Linked DNA regions of Homo sapiens: all the other regions are linked to region 1. The links come from fine-mapping of genetic effects on gene expression. A gene starts in region 1. Each other region holds a variant in brackets. All regions are shown on one strand. Distances are from middle to middle. Region 1 holds the start of CYRIA (CYFIP related Rac1 interactor A). Region 2 overlaps LOC105373444 (a long non-coding RNA gene). Region 3 has its middle 40 kb from the start of CYRIA. Region 4 has its middle 140 kb from the start of LINC01866. Region 5 overlaps CYRIA (CYFIP related Rac1 interactor A). Region 6 overlaps CYRIA (CYFIP related Rac1 interactor A). Region 7 overlaps CYRIA (CYFIP related Rac1 interactor A).

The links. PIP is the estimated chance that this variant, and not a neighbour inherited with it, causes the effect. A credible set is the group of variants that fine-mapping cannot tell apart.
Region 2: its variant is the best candidate, but not a certain one, in a credible set for the expression of CYRIA in whole blood (INTERVAL, PIP 0.64).
Region 3: its variant is the best candidate, but not a certain one, in a credible set for the expression of CYRIA in skeletal muscle (GTEx, PIP 0.77).
Region 4: its variant is the best candidate, but not a certain one, in a credible set for the expression of CYRIA in whole blood (INTERVAL, PIP 0.85).
Region 5: its variant is the best candidate, but not a certain one, in a credible set for the expression of CYRIA in whole blood (TOPMed, PIP 0.57).
Region 6: its variant is the best candidate, but not a certain one, in a credible set for the expression of CYRIA in whole blood (INTERVAL, PIP 0.58).
Region 7: its variant is the best candidate, but not a certain one, in a credible set for the expression of CYRIA in whole blood (INTERVAL, PIP 0.67).

What each region holds. Positions count from the first base shown.
Region 1 is chr2:16,664,244-16,668,312 of GRCh38, forward strand. CYRIA (CYFIP related Rac1 interactor A) reads right to left here and starts at 1,591. Exons shown (of 12, transcript NM_030797.4): 1 at 1,537-1,591. RefSeq lists silencers at 1,508-1,557, 1,628-1,797.
Region 2 is chr2:16,471,219-16,475,287 of GRCh38, forward strand. All of the region lies in intron 1 of LOC105373444 (a long non-coding RNA gene), which reads right to left. Among named protein-coding and RNA genes, the nearest start is that of CYRIA, 190 kb to the right of the region's middle. The variant A/G (reference allele first, on the strand shown) is at 2,537.
Region 3 is chr2:16,703,500-16,707,568 of GRCh38, forward strand. No RefSeq gene overlaps it. Among named protein-coding and RNA genes, the nearest start is that of CYRIA, 40 kb to the left of the region's middle. The variant G/C (reference allele first, on the strand shown) is at 1,566.
Region 4 is chr2:16,822,418-16,826,486 of GRCh38, forward strand. No RefSeq gene overlaps it. Among named protein-coding and RNA genes, the nearest start is that of LINC01866, 140 kb to the right of the region's middle. The variant T/C (reference allele first, on the strand shown) is at 2,386.
Region 5 is chr2:16,619,266-16,623,334 of GRCh38, forward strand. The region is part of intron 2 of CYRIA (CYFIP related Rac1 interactor A); the gene reads right to left. Among named protein-coding and RNA genes, the nearest start is that of CYRIA, 45 kb to the right of the region's middle. The variant A/C (reference allele first, on the strand shown) is at 1,855.
Region 6 is chr2:16,549,822-16,553,890 of GRCh38, forward strand. CYRIA (CYFIP related Rac1 interactor A) reads right to left here. Exons shown (of 12, transcript NM_030797.4): 12 at 1-3,178. The coding sequence ends at 3,115. Among named protein-coding and RNA genes, the nearest start is that of CYRIA, 110 kb to the right of the region's middle. The variant G/A (reference allele first, on the strand shown) is at 1,965.
Region 7 is chr2:16,555,243-16,559,311 of GRCh38, forward strand. All of the region lies in intron 10 of CYRIA (CYFIP related Rac1 interactor A), which reads right to left. Among named protein-coding and RNA genes, the nearest start is that of CYRIA, 110 kb to the right of the region's middle. The variant C/T (reference allele first, on the strand shown) is at 2,370.

The DNA.
Region 1 (4,069 bases):
CTTTCCCACTCTCCCCTCACAGGAACCCAGGGCCAGCAGGAGGTGAAGTTCTGCCAGCCCCCAGCCTGGGCCCAGCGCCCATGTTTATGACTGTTTATTTCAGAGCAAGTAGAAAGGAGAAATTAGAGCCATGAAAGACAGGACAACGGACCAATAAAAACCAGCTCCCAGAAGAGTCAGAAGGAGGAAGACAGGCAAAACTGTCACCATAGCAACACAAGACAGTCAGAAGCACGCAGGAAAAACAGCCCCTGCTCTGCCTCCTGTCTCCACTGCAAAGCAAGCCCTCGAACCCCAACCAGAGATCAGTGAAAGCCGACAATGATCCACCCAAAGAACTCTGGTACCCAAGCCCAGACCTGGCTAGCAGCCACTCTCCTCCTGCTGCCCCAGCACAAGTCCCAGCCTTCCAGGGTCCCAGATCAGCATTCTGTGCCCTGGGGACTCGACACTGTGCAGATGGCCCAGGTCCCATCCAGAGGAGATAGTGACTGGTGACAGAGAGGAAAGTTTCTAACAGGGAGAAAAGGAGGGTCACAGAGCTTCAGGGGAGATCAGGGCCCTAAACTCCAGCCCCATGACCCTGTCTTGGGTTCCCTGGGGAGCAGGCGGGTAAACAAGGGTGTGGGAGAGGACATCAGGCCCTGGACACAGAAAGATTGCTCCATCAGTTCTGGACCTGGCACCCCCAAAACAGTGGCTGGGGGAATTCTGGGGATGCGTGGGGAAATAGCTTTGGAGGCCTTAAATGACAAAGATCTTGGCCCTGGTCTCTGGGGACACTGGCTAGCGAGTAGGAGCAGCTTGGAGGAGGACCCAGGGACGGGCTGGCCCATTTTGACAGAGAATGTCTCCTGGCAGACAAGACAGGTGTCTCCACCAAAAAGCATGGCTGGCCTGGGACCAGCATTTTGGGAAGTGGGTCAAATTGTTCCCAAAGCTCAGTATTGGAAAAGTGCCTTTTGCCAAACTGGGGTTCTGGGTTCTGGGGGAGGAGAGAGGGTGACGGCAAGGTGTGCTGGGTCCTAGGCACAGCAGCTTTCTGGCTGGCTAAGAACGTCTGTGGCAGGTGGCAACAGAAGGGTCCAGGTGTGCAGGGGCTGGGGAGGGGGCCATCCCTCCCTTTGGGGCTGTAGAGAGTACCCAGGACCCCGGGGCCTCGGGTGGTGGGAAGGGGAGTGTTAGGGGTCCCCTGCAAGAATGGAGCTTATGATACCTGGGGTGGGGGGTAAGTGAGTGAGGGACGAGGGAGGGTGGTCTGGGAAAGGAACACAATCAGGAGGCAGCCCTCTCAGAAAGAGGGCAACGGGGCACAAAGCCGGACCTCTGTCCGGCGATCGCTAGAGAAGGGCTCCCGGACGGTGTCCTCCGCTCTCCCTCCCTCCCAAAGGCTGCAGGGGCGTCCGGGAGGAGAAGGATGGCAGGGAGGCGCCCGCCCCGCCTCGCGGTGCCCCGCGGTGCCCCGTGCAGGCCGAGCCCCGCGCCCGCAGACCCCCGCCCGCGCCCCTGCCGCGCCCCCAGCCGCGCCGCGCTCACCGAGTCGCCGCCGCCCTGCTCTGCCGCCCGCTCCGCCGCCGCCGAGTACGCCTCTCCCGCGGCCGCCGCAGCCTGCGAGACGGCCTCGGAGCCCCGCCCCGCCCCTCCCCGTCCCTCCCCGCCCCGCCCCGCCCCCAGCCCGGCTCGCGGCAGCCGCCCCGCCCCGGCCCCGGGGGATCCCCACCCGCGCTGTCACCGGCCGCGTCCTCACCCTAGCCTGGACAACCCCATCTCTTTGCCCGGCTCTGCTCTCTGCTCCCAGGAGCTGGTGCGGACCCGCCCCAGCACGGTCGCCCCTGCCCCTTCTCAGCCTTGGCCACTTGGCCTTGCCTTCCCAGAGGAAGCCCGAACCAGACCTTTCTGTTTCTGCACACCAAATTCCTCCACACCCACGGTTGCCCTCCAAGAAAAAGAAATCCCCGCAATCTCTAGACGCATATTCACCTTCAAATTAATGCCCAGCCAAATCATCCCAATCCCTAGGCACACTCCAAATTACTTGAGATTCTGAACCCAGTCTCGCTCCCAGTCCCTTTCTGCCCACCCTATTAACAGATCTCCAGCCTTGGGGCCCGCAGTTATCCGATAGGACCACTGTAAAGTCTTCCCAAAGGCTCAATCCAAAACATGTAATTAACCTTAAAGAGTAAGTCTGCAAAAACACTTAAAAAATTCTATGATGCAAAAAGAAAGTAGTGGGTTACAGCGTCATTGACGTGATCATTGTTCTAAAACATCTGCCATGGAGGCTTTTTGCATTAGAGAGAGGGAGATTCAGGAAACCGGAGAGGACTCAGCAGTGCCAAACAGGTTGTGAGTCAGAGCTCCTGTTGAGGGGAGGGAGAGCTCCTGGGGACCCCGGCTTCGGGTGCTTCCTTTCCCAGTCCATCAGCCAGAACATCATGAAACATGTGTTAAATCCCCATAGTGTGCCAAGGTACGTGCCCGAAGCTGCATGGGTTGGGGCCCTGTGTGGGCTGGGATCAGAGGAGGCGGGAAGCATCAGGAGAAGGTGTTCAGGCCCCTCTCCTTTCTGAGATCCAGGGTGTTTCCCCTGGGAGGACTTGTTGCCCAAGCTTCCTTTGCACTCTGAAAGGCTCTCCTGAACTGCCCACAGAGGCTCTTGGTCTGTTTTTTGGCAAAAATTCACAGAGGGCAGGAAGGCACTGTCTAGTTAGAGTGAAATATTTTCCCACTTGGAAGGGGTCCTTAGGACCAGAAGAAACACTTTCCCGTTCTCTTTTTGAGTTTTCCCCATGCCCTAGACCAGCCTCTGTTGTCAATTCCTGCAAAGGTGTTTTTTTTGTTTTTGTTTTTTGAGACAGAGTCTCACTCTGTAGCTCAGGCTGGAGTGGAGTGGTGTGATCTCGGCTCACTGCAACCTCCATCCCCCGGGGTTCAAGCAATTCTCCTGCCTCAGCCTCCAGAGTAGCTGGGACTACAGGCGCCTGCCACCACATCCGGCTAATTTTTGTATTTTTAGTAGAGACGGGGTTTCACCATCTTGGTCAGGCTAGTCTTGAACTCTTGACCTCGTGATCCACCCACTTTGGCCTCCCAAAGTGCTGGGATTACAAGCGTGAACCACCGCAGCCGTCTGGCAAAGGTGTTTTATCTGTGAGTGGCTCTATGAGAAAAGCCTTCTTGCCATGAGGTAAACCATGTCTACTACACACACACACACACACACACACACACACACACACACATACACACACCCCTAAAATTTTCTGGCTTAATCTGTCCACCTTGAGTTTGGCCAGGTTTTGGGAAGAGTGAGGACTAATCAGCCACAAACACCATTCATCCCCATAAAACACTATCATTTCAGACCATGAGAGGACTTTTCACTTTACACCCATCTGTCTCTACTAATACAGCTCAAGTTTGTGAGTAGACTATTTGATGCATGAGATTTCACTTCCACACACTTAGAGATGGCTTCTGTTTCAATAATCGAGGGATACCTGCATGGTATTGCCCAGCCCATTATGAAATAATAGGGTTTTCTAATGATCAGTGTGGAATTTAATAATTGAATGTTTCCTAAGACAAAATTACCAGATGAAAGTCTTTTAACTTTATCAGTAATACTAATAACAAGTTTAAAGGTTATTATCATAAAGATTATAGTGAAATTAAACTGCCATTTAGGAGGCAGGTAAGTTGAGACTGAATTTCAGATGGTTGTCACTCACAATATGTGTGCTAAGATGAACCTTAATATCTTAATTAAAGTAAATGTATACTGAGCTGTGCTAGTTTCAAGGACATCTTTTTCATGTATTTCTTTTTTAAAAGAGATTGATGAAGCATGGACAAAGTGCCAGGCACTGTGCTAAGTAATGGAATAAGGACACAGTTCCCTGGTCTTGAGGAGGACACAGGCAGGCTGCCTGTGGAAAAAGACTAACAGAGATATTTGCTGTGTGGACCCAGGAAAAGAAAGAATTCTTTGTGATTGGGGGAAACTGAGAGCAGATTCTTGAAAAGCGCATTTTTAAGCTAAAATATGACGTGGGAAGTTAGACTT
Region 2 (4,069 bases), 190 kb before region 1:
TTGTCAAAACAAGGAGGGCCTGAGGCTTATGTGAGGAATCAGATAACAGTCAAGGTGTGGGAGAGACAGTGAGACTGAGAAAAAGAAACAGTAGGAGGAAAGATGTGTAGGAGGTTCTCTGGGTGAGTATCAGAGACAAGGTACAGTTGAGCATGGCTGGGCCTCTCTGTGTTCCCTATGATGAGTTGTTTGGTGGGCTGGAACCATTCCAAGGGCTTGGGATGAAACCGGCCCATCATTTTCCCTTGGCTTATCTGGGCCTCTTATTCTTTTCTCTCTTACTTCTCCTGAACCTTCCCTTCCTATACCATGTCCTCTCCCCACTGGACTTTCCATCTAATGTAGGTGTTCCAGCATAATATACCTTATGGCATTACTGTGCAAAGACCCAGTGTATTGTTTCATGTGCATAGGGTGTGGGTGGAAATGCGTTTAGGGGAAGAAGGGAAATTTATCTGTAGCTAAGGCTGATTTCTAAAGAAGCTCTTGTTCCTGGATCCCTAAGGCCCATGTTTAACATCCCCAAGTCCTGGAGTTTTCTAGACATCCCTGTTGGTGATGTTCTTCCCTAAATGTAGTGTGACGCAGAAGAAGGAACACTGCGCTCCGAGCGTGGTCTCCTGGTTTCAAGGGCAAGCTCTGCCCGTGACAGTGTACTTGAAATCTTGGCTGGGCACAGGTGCTGACATACTCCCAGGAACTGTAGGAGAAACAGAAGATGAAGTTTCCCTTTTCTTAAGTGGTACAGCTTATAGTAAAGGAGATGGCACTAACATGCTGTGCAGTGGGAAACAACACAGAAATGACGTAAAACCAGCAAGGTGACGTGAGCGTCACCTGGCCTATAGGTGTTGGGGAAGTCCAGAGGATCAGAGCAGGAGGATGCTAGAAGAGACATCTTCAGAGCCAGGACCTGGACTCTAGGGAAAATTTTCACATGAAAATGATAATGATGAAAAAACCATAATTGTAATGATAATAACATAACTAATACTTTGAGTGCCTATTGGATGGTAGGATATTGTACTAGGTGCTTTATTTTGATTGTTTTTTATATACTCATGTGAATCCACAAGGTAGAAGTTGCTAGCTACATTCTATGGAATCTCAGATTAGGATTCTGACCAATGTCACACAGCCAGTAATAGAACAGGGGACATGTCCCAAATCTGCCTGTTCCTGACACTGCCAGGTACTCTTTCCTTTATTCGACTATGTCTCACATCGGCAATGGAATCTGTGAGAGCTGATTTTGTGTGTTAACCTGACTGGGCTAGGAATGGCCAAGAAGCTGGGTGTGTCTTTGAGGGTTTCCAGAAAAGATTAGCATTGGAATCACTAGACTGAGAAAAGAAACTTTCCCTCACCCAATTAATTGAGGGCATGAATAGAAGAAAAAAAGCAGAGGAGGGGCAAATTTGGTCTGTGCTTGAGCTGAGACACCCATCTTCTCCTGCCTTCAGGCATCAATGCCCCTGGTTCTAGTGCTTATGGACTCAGACTGGGACTTACAGCATCAGCCCCTGATTCTCAGGTCTGCAGACTCAAACTGAATTACACCACCAGCTTTCCTGTTTCTCCGGCTTGGAGACAGCAGATTGTGGGACTTCTTGTTCTCCATAACTGTATGAGCCAATTCTTATAATAAATCTCCATATACGTATATAGATATATGTGTGTGCAGATATGTGTGTGTGTGTGTGTGTGTGTGTGTGTGAATAGATAGATAAATAGATACCCTGTTAGTTGTGTTTCTCTGGAGAATCCTTACTAACACAGAATCTTACTCCAGACTCTTTCATTGCATAAAGTAAAGGCAGATCAATCCTTCAATGGGGCCAGTAGTATGAATTTCAAGTTATTCAGCCATTGCTTCCTCAGTTCATTTATAAAAAGACAAGGCCACAAAGCATTCTGCAGTAGAATTCATAGCCAAAAAATTAATTAGAGACAAAGACTCTGGAATTTCTTTGAGTGTCTTATTTCTATCTCCTTTACTAGGCTCAAAATAACCTATTAAACCATGTGATAAAAATAAATCGACAGGCCAAGCACGGTGGCTCACACCTGTAATACCAGCACTTTAGGAGGCTGATGTGGGTGGATCACCTGAGGTCAGGAGTTTGAGACCACCCTGGCCAACATGGTGAAACCCCATCTCTAAAAAAATACAAAATTAGCTGGGCATGGTGGTGCATGCCTGTAATCCCAGCTACTTGGGAGGCTGAGGCAAGAGAATCGCTTGAACTCAGAAGGCGGAGGTTGCAGTGAACCGAGATCGCACCACTGCACTCCAGCCTGGGTGACAAAGCGAGACTCCATCTCAAAAAAACAAAATAAAATAAAAAAATAAATTGACAGAAATGGTTATTATTTCAATTTCACTGTGAAATATTTTATTATTCTTATTGACTCATTTGTTGAAGAATCTAAGATTACCAAGTGACACACTCATTAATTCAATTTATTTTTTGTAAATGAAAGCACTGCTCTGGCTGGACCACAAACCGCATGTGCTCAGTGGTTGGCTGCCTTC[A/G]TTTCAGCTGCATAAGATTGGTTGGATCCAGAGAGATTGTCCTCACTGATGCTCTGAGCCAGCCTTGAGGAACCACCACATCTGACCTCATTCTGTTTGCTGTGACAAGAGAGGGCAGAGTTTTGTGATATTGCTTTTGAAGACAATGTCATCAAGATACAAAAGCCATGGGAATAGTGTGTATGGTGTGTGTATACAAGGGAAATGGGGAAATGGTGTGGGATGTGAACACAAGTGTGTGTTTGTAAGGGGTGGAAGGAGGGAGAGAGAAAATGAAAACCATCACGTAGGGAGTGCCAGCTCTCTGCTAGGCACTCAGCTTTGTGTCTTACCTAAATCACACACCATCCTCCCAATGTTGAAAGTATGTGATAACATCACCATATGATGGAGGGGGAAACTGACACTAAAAGCAGTGAAGAGACTTACACAAGGCTGCAGGTAATTCAGCCAACTCCCATGCTTGTCCATGCTCCTCTGCAGCTCACTGGGACATTTACTGTGAGCCTAATCCTGTATGAATGGTCAGGAGGGGGATAAGTCTGAGAGATGGGGGCATGAAAGAGTGTGAATTCATTTTCCTTCATGGAACATCCTCACAGAGGAAAAGGGCTCAAACCTCCTGTTTACCTGTTAAGAGTTAAAGCCAAGGCTTAGCTGAAGTACTTAATGCTGCAAGAACATGTCTTCACACTCTAAAGAGTCTAAAAACGTGAGTGTACAAAATGTGAGGTGATGACCTTAATAATTTTTAATCAGCATGCAATTATTTACAAGTTCAACTATTTACAAGTTCAGTTCAAAGCAATGTAGGACAATGCAGTGTGGAGATGACCCCATTCCCGCTGGAGAATGGATAGCCTGACTTTAAAGACAAAATCAAAAGAAAGTCCAGAGCAAGTCTAGATCTAAGGTTCCTCACACCATGATAATATATATCCACAGGGTAAACAAGAGGCATCAGGAAAAGATTAGTTTATGTGAAGTAAAAGTCTCTTCTAAGAAGATGAGAAAGTGTTAATATATAGTAAAAACATTTTAATCCCAAATAAAAATATATGGTTATATAGATGTAATAGACATGAATGTAATATACCTGAAATTTTAAGCTTCAGGTGAGAGGCACAAGATTGAGGAGAAAAGCCATGCATAGCCTTGAATTAAGAAGAAACAGTTGGTGTTCAGGCTTTCTCACTTGCTGGCCATAAATTCTTGGGCTTTTCCTATCTGTGCCATGCTTTCTCCCTCTATAATTAGGGAAAAACTGCTCCAATCCTGCTTCTCTCCTGTAGGATTGTAGTGAAGCTCAAATTAGAGACTGGTCACCTGTGTGTTTTATAAATTCTAAGAATCACGATCATGGTCACCATCAGGAAAATCTGTCAATGAAGGCTGTAGAAAATAATTTTACGCTTGAAATAGAAGCACGATGTCACGGGTAACTTTACTAGGGATTCCTTCCTCTGCCTGTTTTCAGGGTCCTCTCAATCCCAGGCAAGGAGTACTTTGCATTTTCGCTTTCACAAGCAATGT
Region 3 (4,069 bases), 39 kb after region 1:
TTGATCTACTCAGAGACCTCACTAAAATCATTTACTACTTCTATAGCTTATTGGTAGAGCCTGAGTTTTTTCATCTACAAAAATCATGTAAATTGCAAATAATAAAAAATTTATTTTTATTAAAACTTTTATCAGTTATTTATTTATTTTTTTTGTCTAAATGTATTGCCTAGGACCTCCAATACAATATTAAATAAATAGTGACAGTAGGCATCTCGATCTCATTTTCACTCTCTTGGGAAATTGTTCTGTTTTTTACATTGAATGTGACACTTACTGACATATTTTAGTAGAATACCTTTAACAGGTTAAGGTTATCTATTTCAGATTCTAGATTACTAAGATTTTTTAAAAATATAAATGAGTATTTGATTTTATCAAATGTACATTCAAAAATGAGTTAGTCAGTTTAATGCCAATGACTGAACTGTATACATTTTAAAGCAAATTATAAACATGAAAATTGACTCAAGAAGAAATAAAAATCCTCAAATGTTACCATCGAATAACTTTATAGTTAAAATGTTCAGTCACCAACAACCCCACTCCACACATTCCCCAGGCCTATTTTACCTCCTACCAAGGAACAATAACTATTAAATAATAGAAAATATTACAGAGACTAGGAAAAGAGGGAAACTGACCGGCACTTTTGATAAGACTATTACAGTCTTGAAACCAAAGCTGGTCACAGCTCATTCAAGTTAGGAAACACAAGGCAAGTCCCTTTGAACACCTATCTGATTGTGTTGGAATTTATGTCTTAAGCCTCATATCTCTTGGATTCTATTTTCCATTTTGCACAGCTCTCCTGCATTCTGGATGGTTCTTTTGATTTTTGTATTGGTTAATCAATTGTTAAGCCAAGATGCTGAATTCCCTGCCCCTCAGTTTTAGCCCCTTTATTTTTATTTTTAGATTTGCCTATTATGTTTTTATTCTATTATATTCTTACATTGTACCTTTCCTTTCTTAATTTGCTTTTTGAAACACTTTAAATATTCCTAATTAAAGTATCTTCTTTGGGTACAAATTCCCATGTCTTTTGCCATTGCTGATGATACCACATGGCAGTTTTTTTCTGTGGTTTCTAATATCCAGTGGAGTTCGTTTTTGTGGGAATCCTGAGTGTAGAATGATTTGTAGAAGCAGTCATCTGGAGATCCATGAGATTAATCAGGACCAGGTCCTTTCTGACAATAGTTTCCCAATCAGGAATTTTTACATCTTCTGAAAAGTATTCATAAGAGCTACATGGTAGTGTTCTTTACAGTTTTAGAGGTTTAATCTCTGCCTCTGTCTCCTCCTTGGTTAAGCCATCCTGCTCCTTGTCCAACAGGTGGAACATTTCTAGCCTCAGTACACAGGTAGCGTAGCTTCTGTTATGCTGGGCTTTGTGCAGTGAGGCCACTTCAGACTGCCTCGGAATACGTGGCCATATTTTTTTCATTTCTCCCACAGATATTTAAACCTCAGCTCCTGAACCATGTATTCGATATAAGTACTCACAGGAATTTTTCTTGGCTTAAACTTTCACTCACAGCTGTAAAAATTTGAGTTCACTT[G/C]TCTTTTTTTTCTCTTATTGGGAGAAGTGTGGAAGCGAGATGGAGCTAATTCTCAGCCTATCATCTTGCCTGATGTCTGGAGTATGAATTAATAAATACAATTTAAAAACAATATGCTTCTCTCATTTGTAAAACGTCCTTTGTTTATTTTGCAAATAGGTGAATTAACTAATGGATATCTGTGTCCCTGAACAAGATAATGAAATTGTTCACGATTCAGTTTACAGTTTATTAGGTACTTAGTGCATTTAGCACGTCAGATGCACCACATTAAAAGAAATAACAGCAAATTCACAACCACAAATGCCTTCCTAATCCACTTGTCCCACTAGAGCTCATAGAAAAGGCCTTTGAAGTAAAAATTAATGGTGACTTTGTTTAGTTGTGGATGTCTAAAATCAATGCCCCAAGAAAAGTTTCCTAAGTTGAAGGAATGAAAGGAGCTTTTCTTCACTTAGCTTCTCCTTCTGAAATGCATTTTGCACCTGCTCTGGTTAGAATATCCTGGGCCCCAAATCTTTGTTCTCTATGGAATACTCACATGCTTCCTCCATTATTTAGGGGTGGGGGCCTGTCTTCCTGATAATTGGTGGGTCTGATCAGCATCTGGGGAGCTATCCAGACGGCCTACAACCCAGAAAGAGTTGTCTGGAGTATAAAGTATTGGCTTTTAATGTGGATAAACCAAAATCAATAAGTAAACCAGTCTTTTTTCTTTCTTGTGTGTGTATGTGTGTATGCATTCATGTACTCATGCACGGCAGTCCTGCAGTATTAAAGGAATTGGCATCTGTAATAAAGTTAGAGCTTTCCGATCTAACTGGGACTTCTGTCTCACTATACTCAAGGCTAAGCCTGTCTCTAAATGCTTCAGTTGGTCATCACGGGCTCTGCAAATTGGATAAGACCTTAGAGATCAACTCATTTATCAATCTCTCTGTATAGACGGAGAAACTGAGGACCAGTGAGGGGAAAGTTCTACAGGTCCCAGAGGATCAAAGTTTAAATGTGGTTGTTCTGAAAGGAAAGAAAGGAGCGTGCCTTCTTGAGCATTTAGATCACACATTGGATGCGTGACTAGGAAAACAGCTACTGGGAAGATGCTTTGTTGACTTCTTTCTTTGTGTGTCAGTCAGTTACCTCTTCTTTTCACCAGAGAAAGAAAAGCAAATCCTAATTATGACTCCTTTGCCTTGCAATGAGACCAGATTAATAATAACAGCCACCTTAGTGTATTGGTTTTTTCTCACACTGCTGCAAGAACTACCTGAGACTGCGTAATTTATGAAGAAAAGAGATTTAATTGACTCATATTTCTGCAAGTTGTACAGGAAGCATAGCTGGGAGGCCTCAGGAAACTTACAGTCATGGAGGGAAGGTGAAGGGGAAGAAAGTGCCACACACTTTTAAACCATCAGATCTTGTGAGAACTCTATTAGGAGATAGCACTAGGGAGATGGTTCTAAATCATTAGAAATCACTTCCATGATCCAATCACCTCCCATTAGGTCCCTCCCCCAACACTGGGGATTTCAATTCAACATGGGATTTGGGTGGGGACACAGAACCAAACCGTATCACTTGAGCTGGCATTGATTGTGCTCTAGGGATGTGGATTCAGGGTTTTCCAGGTCACCTGCAAATGCTACTTAAGGTCTCAATATTTTATTCCCATAGGACAAAATATTCCATATTCCTAGGAAAGTCCAGCAAGTTCAAAGAGTAAATGCTGACTTCTAGGTGACAGATGAGACAATTTTCAGAAAGCTGGTTTAGATCAAGGGCAAAGGGAGAGAGTCTTCGAGCTCTGAGTGCCAATCAGTGTGCTCCATGGCAGAGTGGATCAACATAGACTGACCCTCACACCTAGCTCTAATTGTCCGGTACCTGTTCCTTACACCAGCCAGTGTCTTAAACATCTTGATATTTATTTGTTTTCCTGACCAGCTATTGAAAACTATACTCTTGATTTGTTTTAATCAGATAACGATAAGGCATGTAGGCACATAAATGACTGTCATGAGGGGTTTTCTCACAATTCTCTAGAAACAGGAGGCCTGGGCCACATGGGGAAGAACCAGGGCGGGGGGCGGGAGTCTCAGGCAGAGAAAGTCAAGGAAAGCAGAGTTCAGAGCCTTTGTTGTGGTTTCTGTGGGAAAGGCAAGGCATGCAGATTTAGAATGGGCTAGTTTGAATAATTTCAGTGGGCTCTGGGGCATAGGAGCTGACCCTAATTGTCCAGTACCTGTTTCTGGGATAAGTAGGGCAGAAGAATACCACCTCCTGGAGTGTAAGAGCCAGATAGAGAAGGTGGTTGTGAGTACGGGCTCTGGATTGGTTGGTATACAGATGAAAGGTGCTCTCCTCAGCGAGTCTTCTGCTATCTCTAAGAATTAGCAAGCCCTGGGTGGGGCAGCCTCTTTCCAGTCAGTGAAACTCCAGATACCAGATTATCACTCATATAGAAAATAAAAAAATATAATTAATACCTCAACACTGCTACT
Region 4 (4,069 bases), 160 kb after region 1:
CATCTCTCTCCTCCGGTGCTACTGTCCTAGCTCATGGCCCTACCTTCTCTTTCTAATCTGATATGATTTGCCTCCTAACTCATCTTTCCACTGTTATTCTTGCTCCTCTGCTGTTCATACTCCAGACAGAAGCTACATTATTAAAAAATGTAAGTCAGATAAAGTCATTCTCAGGCTTGATACTTCTTACAGCCTTGTTTTGCCCTTACAATAAAATGCATACTCTTCTAGGATCTAAAGGCCTGCATGGTCTGACTTTGACTCCTTTCTATAACTCACCTCGTGCTTCTTCTCCTTGCCCCCTGCTCTTCAGTACCCTGGACCTTGTCTGGAACTCACTATTCCTAGGGCCTTGGTGTACACCATTCTCCCTGCCTGAATCTGTCTTTCCTCAGTGATGCCTCCTCACACCTAAGGTTTCAGATTCAATGACATCTAAGAGGATTTTCATGACCCTACTATCTAAAGTAGTCCTTCCAATTATTTTCTATCAAAACCTTTTAGAATTTTGTTCAGAGCATTACAGCATTTATTTGTTGCCTTTTTCTTTATGTATTTCCCATCTGGAAGGTAAATTCCTAAAAGATAGGGATCTTGTGTCTGCACCTAAGCTCCTAGCAGGGCGCCTGGTGTAGAGGATGCAACTTGTGTCTATTTGTAGAATTAATAAATGAGCATTTCTTTATAACTTTCTTGTAACATAAATATTACTATACTGATGCCAAGGGATTGGTCTAGGTCTTGTTGCTTGCCACACAGGAAGCCAATCATGGAGACAGTGAGTATCGCCAGGGAAGAAAAACTTTAATTGGAAGACATTAGCTGAGAAGACCAGAGAAAAGCCTTAAATCTGTCTCCTCAACTAACTAAAATTTGGAGTTTATATAGTGGGGAAGGAATGTAGCTATGCAGGAAAACAGGAATTAGTGAGAGGTAAGGAAGCAATCATGACAAATGAGGGGTTTGGCATTTCATTGTCTGGATGTGGTGATCTGGTGAGTTTCAGTTCCTTTATACTATCTGGGAGGCCAGAGGGTCAGTTTCCTGAAAAAGGGACTCAGATAAGACAAATATAAATTTCAAGCTTTAAGACTAGGAGGGTCAATTACAATGTTGATTCAAAAAGACCTTAAATATCAGCTGTATGGGACAATTTGGCTGGTTTTATCATGTTCCCAATTTTGCAAATGAGAACTTAGAGAGACTAGCAAGTGAAGGTCCAGGAAGCATCGGTCTGACTTTTCAAACTTTTAAGCTTTTATCCACGATTCTGTTCTTCATAAATAACTTGGTGATGGTGGTGGTGTGTATCTGTATGCATGCTTGTGTTTTAGTGTATGTGTTTCATAGAGAGTCACCAGAGAAAATAACACTAGTTTGCCACATTATTAACTATAGAATGACCTGACATTTTGACATTTATCCCCCAAATGGAATTAAATATAACTAAAATATACATTTATATGAAATAAAATTATATAAAGGCTGAGATTAAACCCCATGCATTTTTACAAAGGAATCCTGAGGGAATCAGACTCTGTGGCATTTTTCATCCTTTAGGCAATCTTGAAATCCGAGTCTAATTTTTACAAACCTTAAGGTTTCAGTTATTTTGATGTGTTTATCTCTTTTAGTAGTGCACTTATTTCTAGGTAGTTTTGGTTGTTGTTATTTGCTTTAATAAGTATCTTTTCATTTCACTTATGCACTATTTTATCTCAAAATGCAGCCTTTTTCTTAATATCTTCCTCCTTTCCTTCTTTCCTTTTTTCTTTCTTCCTTTCCTCTCTTCTTCCTTTCCTCTCTTCTTCCTTCCATCCTTCCTTCCTTCTTCTATCTCTCCTTTCTTCCTTTCTTCTTTCTAGAATAATAGATGGAGCATGTGCTGTGTGCTAGTCTGTTAGGTATAAGATGCCAGACATGCCTGAAAGTATTGATGTATTTGGTGTTCTTTTTGTTGTAGCTGCTGCTGCAGTGGAGTATCCAAGGCTCTCCTCCTCTAATGCAAAAACATTCACAGGTGATACTAACAAGGTGCATTTTTTTCATATAAAGGCCAAAACTGTTTTCTGACTTTGTCAATACAAAAATCTATATTATGAAATATTTGATTTATATGAGAAAAAGTTTGTGGTCCTAAGGATTCTGGGAAGGAGTGAGTGATGATATTGATTCATCCAGCTTGGTTTACCTGTTCTAACTTGCAAAGATAGAAAATACCTCCAATTCTACTAGCAGTAAGGAGGAAAATAGTCCTGACTAACTGCAGTAGAATTACAAATCCATTGTTAAAGTTTCAAATATGTACAGGCATACCTCAGAAATATTGGGGATTGGGTTCCAGAACATGACAGCGAAGCAAATTTTGCAATAAAGGAAGTCACA[T/C]GAATTTTTTTGGTTTCCCAGTACATGCAAAAGTTATGTTTACACTATACTATAGTCTTTGAGGTGTGAAATAATATTATCTATAAAAACAATGCATGTATCTTAATTAATAAACACTTTAATGCTAAAAATGCGAACAATCATCTGAGTCTTCAGCAAGTTTTTATCTTTTTGCTGGTGGAGGATCTTGCCTCAATGGTCATGGCTGCTGACTAACCAGGGTGGCTGTTGCTAAAGATTGGGACAGCTGTGGCAATTTATTAAAAAGACAACAATGAAGTTTGACAAATGGATTGACTCTTCCTTTCACAAAAGATTTCTCTAGAGCATGTCATGCTGTTTGATAGCATTTTACCCACAGTTGAACTTCTTTCAAAATTGGAGTCAATTCACTCAAATAATGTTGTTGCTTTATCAATTAAGTTTACATAATATTCTATATCTTTTGATATCTCCTGTGAACATATCAACAATATTAACAATACCTTCATCCAGAGTAGCTTCCAGCTCGAGAAAATTTGCTTTGCACATTCATAAGAAGCAACTTCTCATCTGTTAAAGCTTTATCATGAGATTGCAACAATCAATTCGCATATTTAGACTCTACTTCTAATTTTAGTTCTCTTGATATTTCTACCCCATCTGCAATTACTTCTTCCACTGAAGTCTTTATCACCTCAAAGTCATCCATGAGGGTTGGAATCAACTTCTTCCAAACTCCTGTTAATGTTGATATTTTTACCTCCTCCCACGTATTGCAAATGTTCTTAATGGCATCTAGAATGGTGAATCCTTTCCATAAGGTTTTCAATTTACTTTGCTCAGATCCATGAGAGGAATACCTATGTATGGCAGCTATAGCCTTATAAAATGTGTTTCTTATGTAATATGACTTGCAAGTTGAAATTACTCCTTGATCCATGGACTGCAGAATGGATCTTCTGTTAGCAGGCATGAAAACAACATTAATCTCCTTGTAGACCTCTATTGATGCTCTTGGGTGACGAGGTGCATTGTCAATGAGCAGTAATATTTTAAAAAGAATCTTTTTTTTCCTGAGTAGTAGGTCTCAACAGTGAGCTTAAAATGTCCAGTAAACTGATGTAAACAGACGTGCTGTCATCTGAGCTTTGTTGTTCCATTTATAGGGCACAGGCGGAATTTATTTAGCATCATTCTTATGAGCTCTGGGATTTTCCAAATGATAAATGAATATTGGCTTCAACTTAAAGTTACCAGCTGCGTTAGCCCCAAATAAGAGAAACAGCTTGTCCTTTGAAGATTTGAAGCCAGGAATTTGACTCCTCCTTTCTAGCTATATACATCCTAGATAGCATCTTCTTCTAAGAGATGGCTGGTTTTTTTTTCCACTGAAAATATGTTGTTTAGTGTAGCCACTCTCATCAACGATCTCAGCTGAATCTTCTGGAAAACTTGCTGCTCCTTCTCCATCAGCATTTGCTGCTCCGCCTTGTACATTTATGTTATAAAGATGGCTTCTTTCCTTAAATCTAGTGAACCAAACTCGGCTGGCTATAAACTTTTCTCCGGCAGCTTCTTCACCTCTCTCAGCCTTCACAGAATTGAAGAGAGTTAGGACCTTGTTCTGGATTAGGCTTTGGCTTAAGGAAATGTGTAGCGGGTTTCATCTATCCAAACCACTAACACTTTCACCACATCAGCA
Region 5 (4,069 bases), 45 kb before region 1:
ACATAATGTACACATATATACATACACACATATATACCCATATATACACACACGTAGGTACATGCATATGTACATACACACGTACATAAAACCCTCTGTGTGTGTGTGCATATATAGATATATATATATATACACACACACATATACATATTCTACCCCAAGAGTTCCACCCCAAGAGTTCCAAAGGGAAGGTAGCAGGGGAAATACAGTTTTCACTTAGAAGAAGCAGACTCAGGTCTCTGTAAAGCTGCATTTTACCACCAGAGAGCTATGGTGTAATCCATGCTGTTAAATCAGCGTTTCTGGATGATGAAGATGAATTCCTCCTCCTTTCTACTTCTTTTCTTGGTCCCCTTACCCTATTCTGCTCACTAACACCTCCATAGGGTCAGAGAAAAGATCAATTCAAATTAGTCAATTTGCTTCTTTTTAGTCGCTGTTGGGAACAAAGTGGGAGGATGAGGAGGTGGCTACTAATGGATTTTTGAAAAGCAGAGTTGAGGCATTATCTGAGCATGATGAGCAGGCTGGCTATTTCCTCCTCACCCATGACAGAGAAATGAATGTTGGCCCTTATTTATAGAGTGCAGTTCTGTACCTGAGCATCTCTCTTCCAGCTCGCAACTCCTACTCATCCTTCAATGCCCAAATCATATGGCTCCTTTTGGAGCCTTCCCTGACTTTCCTGGGCAGAGAACACATTTCATCCTCTGCATCCACATCACTTTGTTCATGTCTGGGTTCTTGTCTGCCATCTGCTTCTCTGTTGGCTGCTTTTGTCTTTGTCACGTGATTAGAAACTCCTTGAGGTGCTGACCTTGTCTGATTTGTCCTGATGTTCACGGCCCAACACAGGGTGTGACCATTGGTAGATACTCAGATATTACCTGTTTAATGAGTGCGTAATTTCTAAAAGAACACTCTGACTTTAGTATTCAGTGGAGAGAGGGTTAAGGAATGGATATTACTCATTCATTTTCTGATGGGAAGAAAATGTAACAAGACCTAAATCCCATCATTTCTACTAGAATAGTTTAAGTTTTTGCCAGCCAGTTCTAAGAGAAACAAAACTTATGTTCTAACCATTTCACAGCTATCTGTGTACTAAGACTGGGCATGAAATGACAAGTTTAGCATTCACTGCAGCATCAATGGTGGGAAGGGACATTGTATGCATCTGCTACCCACAGCCATCTCATTCAGTTGATCTGTGTGAACTTATTTTACAGCCAAGGAAACTATAATCTTATAATAATATATGAAAGAGGTATAAAATAAGCATTTTAAGGAACCAGGGTTTCAAATAAAATTAGGCTCTTTGCCTCTTAAAACTCCAATCCTAATAACTCATCCATTTTTGCTTAAAAACTGTGAGCAGTTCTAAGCTGTCCTCAAAACAGACTCAAACCACTTAGCTTGGTCTGAAAAATCCCTGATTCATACCCTCACCTCCCTCTCTAAGTGAGTCCCTTGGTCTCTCAGACTCACCTCTCCACATTCCACAGTCTCAGGAGGGAGGTGAAGGTGCACAGGATTCCCCGAGGCACAGTCCTTGCCTATGTGTCTCCATCTCCCGGCCTGGAAATTCCTAACACCCTTCCCTGAAGCATCTTAACCTCCTTGCTTGGTTCCTGCCTGGCTACATCTCATCTCCAGGACTGAGTGCAGACAACCTGCTCCCAAGAAGCTTCCATGGTTCCACCCCTCAATCTGGGTCAGGGACTCCTCCTCTGAGCTCCCCAAGCACCCATTCCTAATGCAACACTGATCAAAGTGTGTTGTCTAGCCATTAGTGCGTCTCCTGGTAAAACCAGAAGCAACTCAACTGCAGGGGCTGACCTAGTCCTCATTTAT[A/C]CCCAGTGCCTGGTACAGCACTCACATAGAAGAGGCACTCATATATCTGCTGAATGAATGATCCTCCTTCTACCCTGAAGGCGAGAAAGACCAATAGTCTATCATGTAAGTAAATTCCAAGAGAACAGGTAAAAGTGACCTGTGGGAGGTTCCAGTGGAAAATTCCTACTCTAGCAAATTGACTCTATGATGATCAAATTAAGACAACTGTTTACATCAACCTACTTTATCGATGCAACTTCCCCAAGAAACCTTGATAGCACCAGGCCATGGAGTCCTAAGAATGGGGCCCAGACTCATTAATCTACAGAGTCCCAGTAGCTAGGGCCCAGTAAAGATTTTTGAATGAATGACTAACACTGCATTGGGAAAGAGCTCTGGGGAAGAGAAAGGAAGGGTAGAAGAATCTCCAGAAAAGCCAGCCAGAACATAAACACCCAAGTCCTTTCTGCCCTCGCTTCATTCCACAGGCTCCTCATTCCTTCTGCTCCAATCCTACTGGTCACTCGAGACTGGGTAAAGCCCAAGTGCATTCCCCGATCAGAGATTTAGTTCTGGCTCTTCCTTCTAGCCTTGCTCCCTCACTTTCTCCAGATGCTGCCCAAATAATGCCTTATCCAGAGGTGTTCCCTGGCACTGTATATAAAACAGTAATGTCCATTTCCCTCAACTCTCTAGCTCTCTGACTTAGCTTTATTTTTTTCTGCTTTATTTTTTTCATAGCACCTAATACTACCAGATGTAATACATACATGTTTGCTACTTGTTGATGATCCCTTGATCCTACTTGAATGCAAGCTCCTTGAGAACAGGAACTTGGTTTTGTTCTGTCCTGTATCCCTAGCACCAAGATAGTGCGAGCCACCCACTGCATGGTTCATGTTCCATGAACATCTACTGACTGAATGGATGACTGGGTGAATGACTGCCTTAGAAAAGCTAACAGGCAAGGAAGAAAGCCCTGAATGAGCATGTGCTTGGACCCTGACTGTCTTGCTGAGTGCCAGGCCAGGATACCGGCCCCAAATCAATTGACCCTTACTCTTGGTCTTGGATGTAGGCTAGTCTGAAGGGAAAAAGCCACCGGGAGGGAATTAGTTTTCAGCTAATACCTCATGGGACAAAGGGCTAGGAAAGTAGTAGTTCTAACTTTGGGTATGGCAGAGAAAACCTTCCAATGGCCAGGCTGGAGAGGCAATCTGGCTAAAGTCCGGGTGAGAAAAGGCTTCTATGGATGAAGAGCTCTGAAATAAAAAGGCTGTTAACAGTTTCTCTCCTTTTTAAATCGTTGGGGCTTAACAGTATTTGTGGACAAGGCCTGTCCTAGATTTTAGGCACAAGGCTCAAATGAAATCCAGATATGGGATCAAAGCTATATTCAAGTAGCTCTAAAAAAGGGTAGGTAGGGAAAGGAGCTGGTATTTGCTGAGGTCTCCTGTAACAAGAAACCATGCTCATGCGTGATCTCACTTAATCCTCAACACCAGCTTATAACATGGAGTGTACTATCCCTACCTTACAGGTGGGGAAACAGAAGCTTGGGGATTTAAAATGGTGATTTAAGCAAAATCACTGAGCCAACACAGAGCACAGCTGAGATCTGAAGTCATGTGTGTCTAAGTCGCAAAACTGTTCTCCTTCCTCTGAATTATGCTATAGCTCAGAAACCACTCTAGAGAAAGAAACCACAAGAGGAAGAAAGGAAGCAGGCATGAGATAAACATGTTCCCCAAAGAATAAGAGTCTGGCATAAGAAACAAGTCTGGGATAAGACAATCCTGGGAATGCAAAACAAGCTTTAGATATCACCTGGTCTTACCTTCTGTCCTGTGCTTAGCTTCGTGAAATGCTTCTGGTTTTAGTTTTTCAGAAAAGTCAAGGTATCTAGCTGAAAAAGAGCTTCAAGACAGGATAGCAGAAGATAACACCAAAAACTAGTGCAAGAGTGAAGATGTGTGGCCATCTCAGTGTGTTGGCATTTTTTTCATGACTCCTGACCATGATTCCTTACACTGGGCCTGCGTAAGAGAGATGTGTTAATATACCACAATCCAGGCAGCTGAACGCTTGACCAAACTTTAGTCATCTAGGAGGAATGTCAGCCTACATCAGGTGCAACTCCAATGAAGACATTCTAGTAGATGTGGCCACATTCCTTGCACATAAGAAGGAAAGGATCCATAAGTGACTGGGAGGAGGGGAGAGAGACGAGCAA
Region 6 (4,069 bases), 110 kb before region 1:
TGCATCAGTAACCTCAGTTTACCATTAAGGTCTTAATTTAATGGTGATAACTAGGAGCAAATGTTGATCAAGCATGATGTTAACTAGTAGTTAAAAGGTAATATCCAAACTTTCTTTCTGGTTGTTAATACTCCACCCCTAATGTGAAGACATCCATTTCCAGTTGTTTTTTTTTTTTGTTATTGTTTTTTTTTTTCTACTACTAATTCCTAGTGGTGCACAACGAGTTTCTGAGAACACAGTAATAACGCCAAAGTAGCAGTGCATCTGAGAAACATAATTTTTACCTCGTTGCTTTCCCAAAAATAAATATCTCAGTCATGGAAAACACTGTTTATTTGAAAACAATGAGACCTCAAATATGAAATATAGTTAACAATGACATTGACACTGTTGCTAGCACTTTCCCCTAAACCACCCGTAAGTCTTGGACGCATGTGCATGCAGCACACACACACACACACAAAAACCAAAAACAAAGCCAAAAAAAAAAAAATCCCAAACACAACAATCCATGATTGTTCAATGACTCCTGATGCCGGGAGGACAGGCTGTTAAAAGAATTTGTCTCCCACAATATCTCTGGAGTGGGCACAAAGCCCATCACCTGTTAGTGATCACAGACATTCAGTTAACCTGTCCTTCCAGTAATCAGAGACAACAATTCAGACCCTGGACTTCTCAGAATCCATGTACTGCTGAGTCTTGGCTTTGAGACAAGACAAGTCTTGGCTAAATTGAGGCAGGACAGCAGCCCCTTCCATATGTTTGGTCCCATTTGATAGAAAGTCTAATTTAGAGTTATAAATGTGCTCATCTATTTACTCTGAGCTCAATCTAATTTGACAGGTAATTCCTCACATTTTCTCCATTAGCCAGCTGAGAGTCAGCTGTGGTAGAGACACACGACATGGGTTCAAGCCCCTCATGAGCCCTGTGGTGGCTGGCAAGTCCTTTCCTTTCTTTAAGCCTTAATCTCCTCACTTGATAGAGGGGGAGAAATTGACCCAATGATGATAAATATTGTGTGGTTCTATATTTCTAGCCTAGACAATTGTTGCTCAAGTGTAACATGTGACTGCCAAATAGGATATCTCTTAAGATGAATATCTCCTAACTTTCCTCACCTGGTATGATCACATATTCTGGCTTCCTCTAAGGTTTAGAATCTGTAGGTTCAAAAAGGTCTTGAAGACCACCTAGCATATTTCTATTCTGATGAGAGAAACTCCATCCAAGCAGCTGTACTTTTTCAACTTGAAAATCTCCAAGGAAAAGAGCCTTTTCCTTCTGTTGACTAATGTTTAGATGCAGACCAGGGAATCTTTCCTGTCACTTGGCTGAACTCCCTTGCTAAAACAACATAAGACAAGTATTTTTTCCCCTTTATTGGAGGATCCAAGGGAAGATCAGCTGGTCACTAAAGTCCAGAAAGCAATGGAGTCTTATAGCTCATTCCTGGGATGTTGCAAATAATGCCAAACTCTGATGTACTCAGACTCAACTTCTAGGATTATCATTCACTAAATGCCTGGGTGACTCCTTCTAGTGGAAACAGGCAAGTAACAATATAGACCAGACTGAGGATTTACTTAGAAGGGTTGAATCCCATCCCATAGTATGTATTCACAGCCACATGGTATAAAAGGAAGAGCATGGAGTCAAGAGTGAAGCATCCTGGGTTCTAGGCCCACATGGGAGCCATCCTGTATGACCACATCCTCTGGGTTTCATTTTTCCTTAGGAGGTCAGAATCAGAGATTTTCATGATTCCATTCGAACTAAGCTCTGATGTACAGAGAGAATGACTGCAGGCTTCATAATATTGTTCATCAACAAGACAAGGTGGGGCAAATGCTTGCTGGATACTACGTACTAAGGAAGAAGGGCGGAGTCAGTCATTTTATCGGCATTAACCTTACAGGGCTCTTGAAGATTGTTTTAATTGCCCATTTTAGAGACAA[G/A]GAGGTTAAGACTCAGAAAGCTTAAACACATTTCTCAAGATCACATTATGAATCATTAGTAAGGCCAGGAGTAAATTCAGGTGCACCAGGGCTTTTATATTGCAACAAGCTAGCAACGGGGTTGGGGAAGAGCTACTTTTTAAAAACCTGGGAAATAGAAAACATGGATTTTTTTTCCCTCTAAATTCCCCTAGTTTTCTGGTAACTAATGCAGTATCCTAGACCTTTGTTCTCATATGAATGGTCTTCAGAGAACAGGGCTCTTATGAGGGGTGGCTGTGCACCCAGAACTCTGCAGGTAACTGGAAGGTTGCTAAACTCACAAATAACTTCAAAGCCAGAGCTCCATTTCCCTAATCCCTGTAGGCAGAGGGCTGAAGCAGAGAGATGGCTGTCCTGTTGCCTGAGTGCACCTCTGAGGACCTGTCTCCCAGTTCCAAGACAGCCACCTTCATCAGTCCAGTGGCAACAGCACATCTATCTATTTCTGCTGCTCTCCCACTAACTGAAAAAAATACAGGAGATTTTTTTTTCATGTGAAATTAAAGGAGAACATTAGAGGGATATAAATCCAAACAGAAAAGGAGTATGCTGATTAATAAAACACGTGCAAACAGAAAAGTTGCACGTGTGGACTGCAGTCTGAGGACAGAGAGGGGGTGTGCTGAATTCGAAACACTTGGGTTTAATTCTCCACATGCATTTTTCTTGGATTCCTCTCTTCCTCTGTCAAGATAACAGTTGTGTTTCTTGTAGCTGAGCCGACACAGGAAATCAAATATTTTGTGTTTCTATAAACTATACTTCCCAGAGAGATAACACATCTAGAATTAAAATACTACCACAAACAATTAGGAATTTTTTATCGTTATAGATGTTGTTAAAGGACTCCAGTAGCAAAGATCAAAGTCTCCGAATTTTGCCTTTGGAGAAGGGGGTTTCATTTCAGACATCAAAGGTAAGGCTCTCAAGTCAATTTATGCTCTGCTGGGTTGAGTCAGTCAGGATACAAATTAAGGTCCATATATTTCAGTGACAAGAAGGAAACGGTTATGTAAATACACAAGTATTAACATCAATCTGTATTAAATTATGTAAACATATACATCTTCTGAGGTCAGCACATAGATCCTCTTCTTTGAGCAGAGCTCTACTGAAGCATTGCTCGAATCTGTTTGGAAGTTGATTCATCGTTCAAGTGCTTTGTAGTGAACCTGGATGGAGAGAGAATGGTAGAGGTTAGCGGCAAACAGTGCTCTGTGTAAGCTTCAGCCCATCTTTACCTTCGGAAACACAATTGATATTTGGGCTTATTTCTTTAGACAAAAATCCACACTTCAATGCTCACAGTCATCTCAGATTTAATATTTGATTCTTCCTTCCAAAGGAATTTTGTATTATGGTTATTAAACCAAGTAGATATTTTACATAATCAAATAATTACACAGAGGAGATATGAGCGGTCTCATTTTCTAGGGAGGTGGATTTCACAGGATTGAGTGCAGAATCCTGACCACTGAGGCTGCCCCTGCTAACTCACAAATTTCAGAATAGAGATTTGCATAGCAACATTGCCCAGAACTGGAATGTTTATGGTTCTCCACTTTCCTGGCAATGCTTAATTAACCTCATTGCCACCACAAGGGGGCACAAATGCTGGTAAGCAAACCCACAAAAATGGTGCAATCTGCAGCCTCCCAATAGCCGGGTGTAGAAATCATTTATGCAAAAGAAGGAAAAGAGAATTAACATGTAATAAAACTTTGGCCAGGTCATGGGCGCTCCATGTTAAGTTTCGTGTTACAATAACTTTGTAAAGGTGAGGTCATTGCCTTCATTTTATAGAAAAGAAAACTAAGATTCAGAGAGGTTAAATGATCTATTCCAGATCACAAGGTTACTGAATTGAGATTTGTGATTTCTGATTCAAACCTATATTTTGCTATCTGGAAAGCCTGTGCTCCTCTGACATCATCACAGTGCCTCCAGGAGGTACAAATTCTAACAAATCAGATGGGACTCAGGGCCTAGCACAGAGTTTTGCTTGATTGAATGATGCTGGAAAGCTCAACACACTCAGAAGTTAAAGCCTTATTCATGTGTAT
Region 7 (4,069 bases), 110 kb before region 1:
ATAGAAATCCAACGCAGAAATGACCAACAGGTTTTCCTACCCCCTCAGGCTGGTGAGCTGTTCCTCTGGGCTTCTAGAGGATTCTGTATGACTGCAATCATTATCAATTTTCATACTATTTGCAATTGTACATTTCACTTGCCTGGCTTTAGGGACAAAGACTTGAGACTTTGATCTTGCCTTGTACTATGGAGCCAAATGCAGGGCCTTCCATCCACTCAGTGCTCAGTTTCCATGTCTATGTCTATGTTGGACATGTCTATGTCCAAGTCTATGTCTCAGTTGAGATTTACTGAATAAAATCTGAATAATTTTATGCCATTCTTCTGCCCTGAATGTTTTCTGTCCTTCACCTGTTTGACTGGCAAACCCTTAACACTTATTTTAGACCCAGCTGAAGATCATTACCTCCTGGAATCCTATTCTGACCTCACTACCTTCATTAGGTAGAAGCAACCAACACCTTTCTGTGCTCCCAATACGACTCTGTCATTTATCAGAGAAACTTGGAGAATTTAGTGCCCATATTAACTTCTTTCTTCACTAGACCAGGAGCTCCTGGAGGTCCAAGTCTATGTCTCAGCCATCTTTGAGAGGACTGATGAAGGGCCACTGTTCAGAATGTGAACTTCACAGATGCTAAATGCCTGAGTTTCCTTCATGCTTGTTTCTTTAGTATCTTCACAAACCTAGGCAAGTGTCTTAGCTTTTTGTGTCTGTATAATATAGTTGACCCGTAATTTGGGAAGTGCATGGAAACTGAATTTATATAGATCACATTACATTATGCATATCCTGGAGTGTTTTTTGGCAAAGCAAGAATCTTTCTGCAAAGCTATTCATATGCTGTTATATATTGGATTTGGTTATACTTAGGGCCCCTTTTGTAACAGCCCTTAGAAACATTTTCTGTCATTGTGCTTCTTGCATGTCAAAAGTTTTATCTTACGGCCTGATAGACCCTGATAGACTGATGGAGGCTGCCAGAAAACAGGGTTGGGAATCATGTGAGGATCACTACAGGTGCATCAAAAAAGAATGTCATGGCAAACGAGAGGTGTCTGTCATGCATACCGGATTGGGAGAAGCTACAAGCATGCCAGGTATATGCCACCCCAGACCTGGGATGGCATCAGGCCCAGGGATGCAGAGATTCTGTCCCTCTCCCATAGTTGATTATCACAGTGTGGAAGTGTTCTTATGAACCAGGCCTAAGAAGCAGTGACAATGCAGATGTGGAAGGGGTGGAAGAGCAGGGAATGCTGTTTGGGAATCCGGAGTTCCACTTAGGGTGATTTAAGCTGTAGGTATGAATAACAAGATGCTGTCAAGGATGCAGTTGGGGCCAGATGCAGTGTGAATTCGACAGCATGTTCAGGAGCTGGGGGCTTTACCTGTGGAAAACATCCTTGATAGGTGTTAAATAATCTAGTGATGTGGTTAATATGGAAAAGGACCAGAAGGAAGCAAGAACAGAGAGAGAAGGGGCAGTGAGAGCCCCTGAGGGTGTGAGGTGTGGGAGCAGCAGTGGGCATGGAGGAGCAAGTAGAGACAGGGACTAATCTGAGGTCAACTCCATAGGATTTGGTGACTGATGAGATATGGGGTGAAGAAGCCATTCCTCATTCTCAGGGACAATTTTAGCCTCTGGCTTAGACACTGGTTGGAGGACGATGAAATACCTGAGACGGGAACCCAGGAGAAGGAACAGGTTTGTGGGGGGAGGGGAATCTCTGTTTTGGGGATGGCCATATTTCAGGTGTCCATGGGAAATGGGGTCTGGAATTCTGGATAAAATCTGAGATGGAGACAGGGGTTAAGAGGTGATTACTTATTGGGTCATTTCAAAAGATTCTAAGGAAATCAATTGAAAACACCATCTCCCCAAACCCTCCTTTCCTGGCATTCACAATTAGCATTTCTTTAATAAATGGCTTGTGCCGCCTTGGTAGCCACTTGGATGATTCCCCCTGCCTGGAGGACTCTGCTTTCCCTCTGTCCTTTTGGGATAATCCTACATCTTCTTCAAGGTCCACCTCAAACATCACCCTCTGTCTCTGCTCTTCGGCAAAACGAGTTTCTCCCTCCCCCTAGGTTTCCAGAGCTCACTGCATGTCTATTCTGCACTCCAAAGCATGCCCTTTGTAAGTACACACACAGTGCCTGCCTCTCTCAGGCCCTCACGAAGAGATCCTGGGGTTTTCACAGTTGATGCTGATGCCCTAATGATTTACGAGCCCAGTGACTATAACTGCTGGCTTAGAAACAGACTAGTATCTGAATGGAGACCCTATATGTCGTAAAAAAAAAATGGCCCATCTCAAATGGTTTACCGTGCTTATTAAGCCTGAAACTTTCTTAGAGGTACA[C/T]GCAAACATCCATATGAACAAACCTTACGTAGTGCTTTTGACCTCCACGGACAAAAGCAAACTTCATCAAGACTATGCGTGAAGACTTAACATGATATACTGTTTACAGCCTCAACTGAAAGACTCAGTAAATAACATATAAAGCCAAGCTTTTTAAAGATTAGGGCTACAAGGCATAATTTTACCCAGTGTATTTTTAATTGTTGACTCTGTGACAAGTTAACAAATGGCTATGGTAATGAGAATATCTTATGAGTCTCAGGTAATGAACTCAACCCATAGTCAAATAATATTTACAGAGTTATTTATACTCAATCTATAGTATGAAAATGTTAAAGCCTCACAAAGGATACAGTAAAAATATTTATTGGTATAAAAATGCCCATGATACACTTTTATGTAAATGAAATATGTTTCAAAATAGCACGTAAAGCAGGGTACTAATTTGTTAAGGACATCCACACACATGTCCACACAAGCATCTATACTAAAAGAAGGTACACATGCATGCTGCTGTATGAACGGTGATCCTCTGCCTATGGTGAGGTTATTACAGGATATATTTAATTTACTATGTCTTGATTTTCTAAGTGTCAAAATTTTTTTCACATAAATATTTATTTTCTTGGTACATAGAAATAATTACATTAAAAATAATAAAGAGTCTATGAAGAAACATGACTAACTATACTACGAACTCAGAACCTTAAAATAAGTAATCCAAGTTACATTTTTTATTGATACATTATCTTGCATTCTTCAGACCTATGGCCCTCCTGGGCATGTAGACTTTCTCTTGCATAGGGCCAGAGCATCAGGACACTGTTCTCTGCAGATGAGTGAACACAGTGTGTCACCCAGACTCGGCTATACTGGAGTAAGTAAGTTACTACCAAGAGATGCTATTCTGCACTTTAAAGGCTTTAAATGAGTACATGGAATACACTATTGGGTTGGTGCTAGAGGCAAGTGCTGGATGAAGAGGAGGTGTGCTTTATGCCACAATCAACAGCAAAGCAACTGTGCACCAAAATCATGTGTTTTCAATTATCTTCATTCATTCATTCATTCATCCATCAAAACACCTACAGCGTGTCTGTTGAGTTCCACCCACTATGTGCCAGGTACTGTGTGAGGCAATAGAGCAGACATGAGGTATATAGATTATGGTCCCTGTCCTTGTCAAGAAATTGTCTGTGAGGGAGTCAGAAAATACAGAACGGTGAGTGCTCTGGCGACCAGAGAAGCAAGAAGGCTTGTCCTATGCAGAAAATGTGTTCTTAGATGAGGCGATGTTTGAAACATGTCTGAAAGGAACCCACCCATCAGAGAGGAAGAGGAAGGGCTCTCTCGGCAAGAGAAAGGACTCACACATATCACGTATATCCAAATGATGAGGAAAGGCATGGGACATGAGTGGAGCAACAGGTAGTGGTGGGAGAGGAAGTGAAAGGTAATTTGGGATTTGACCATAGTGTCTTGTAATGTAGTATCTCCCAACTCTTCACAATAGGACACACATAGAATAGAAACCATCTATTTGTACAGCACACTGGGTAAATGAAGGGACTGCATGCAACTAAGTGACTGTTCATTTGCTCAGCTCCATTAGAGACTGAGGGGATCAGCATCATAACATTGCTGCTGTGCTTTTGAGGTTGAGTGTTTTTTCCTAAGCACAAGAAAAAGCCTGGACATCT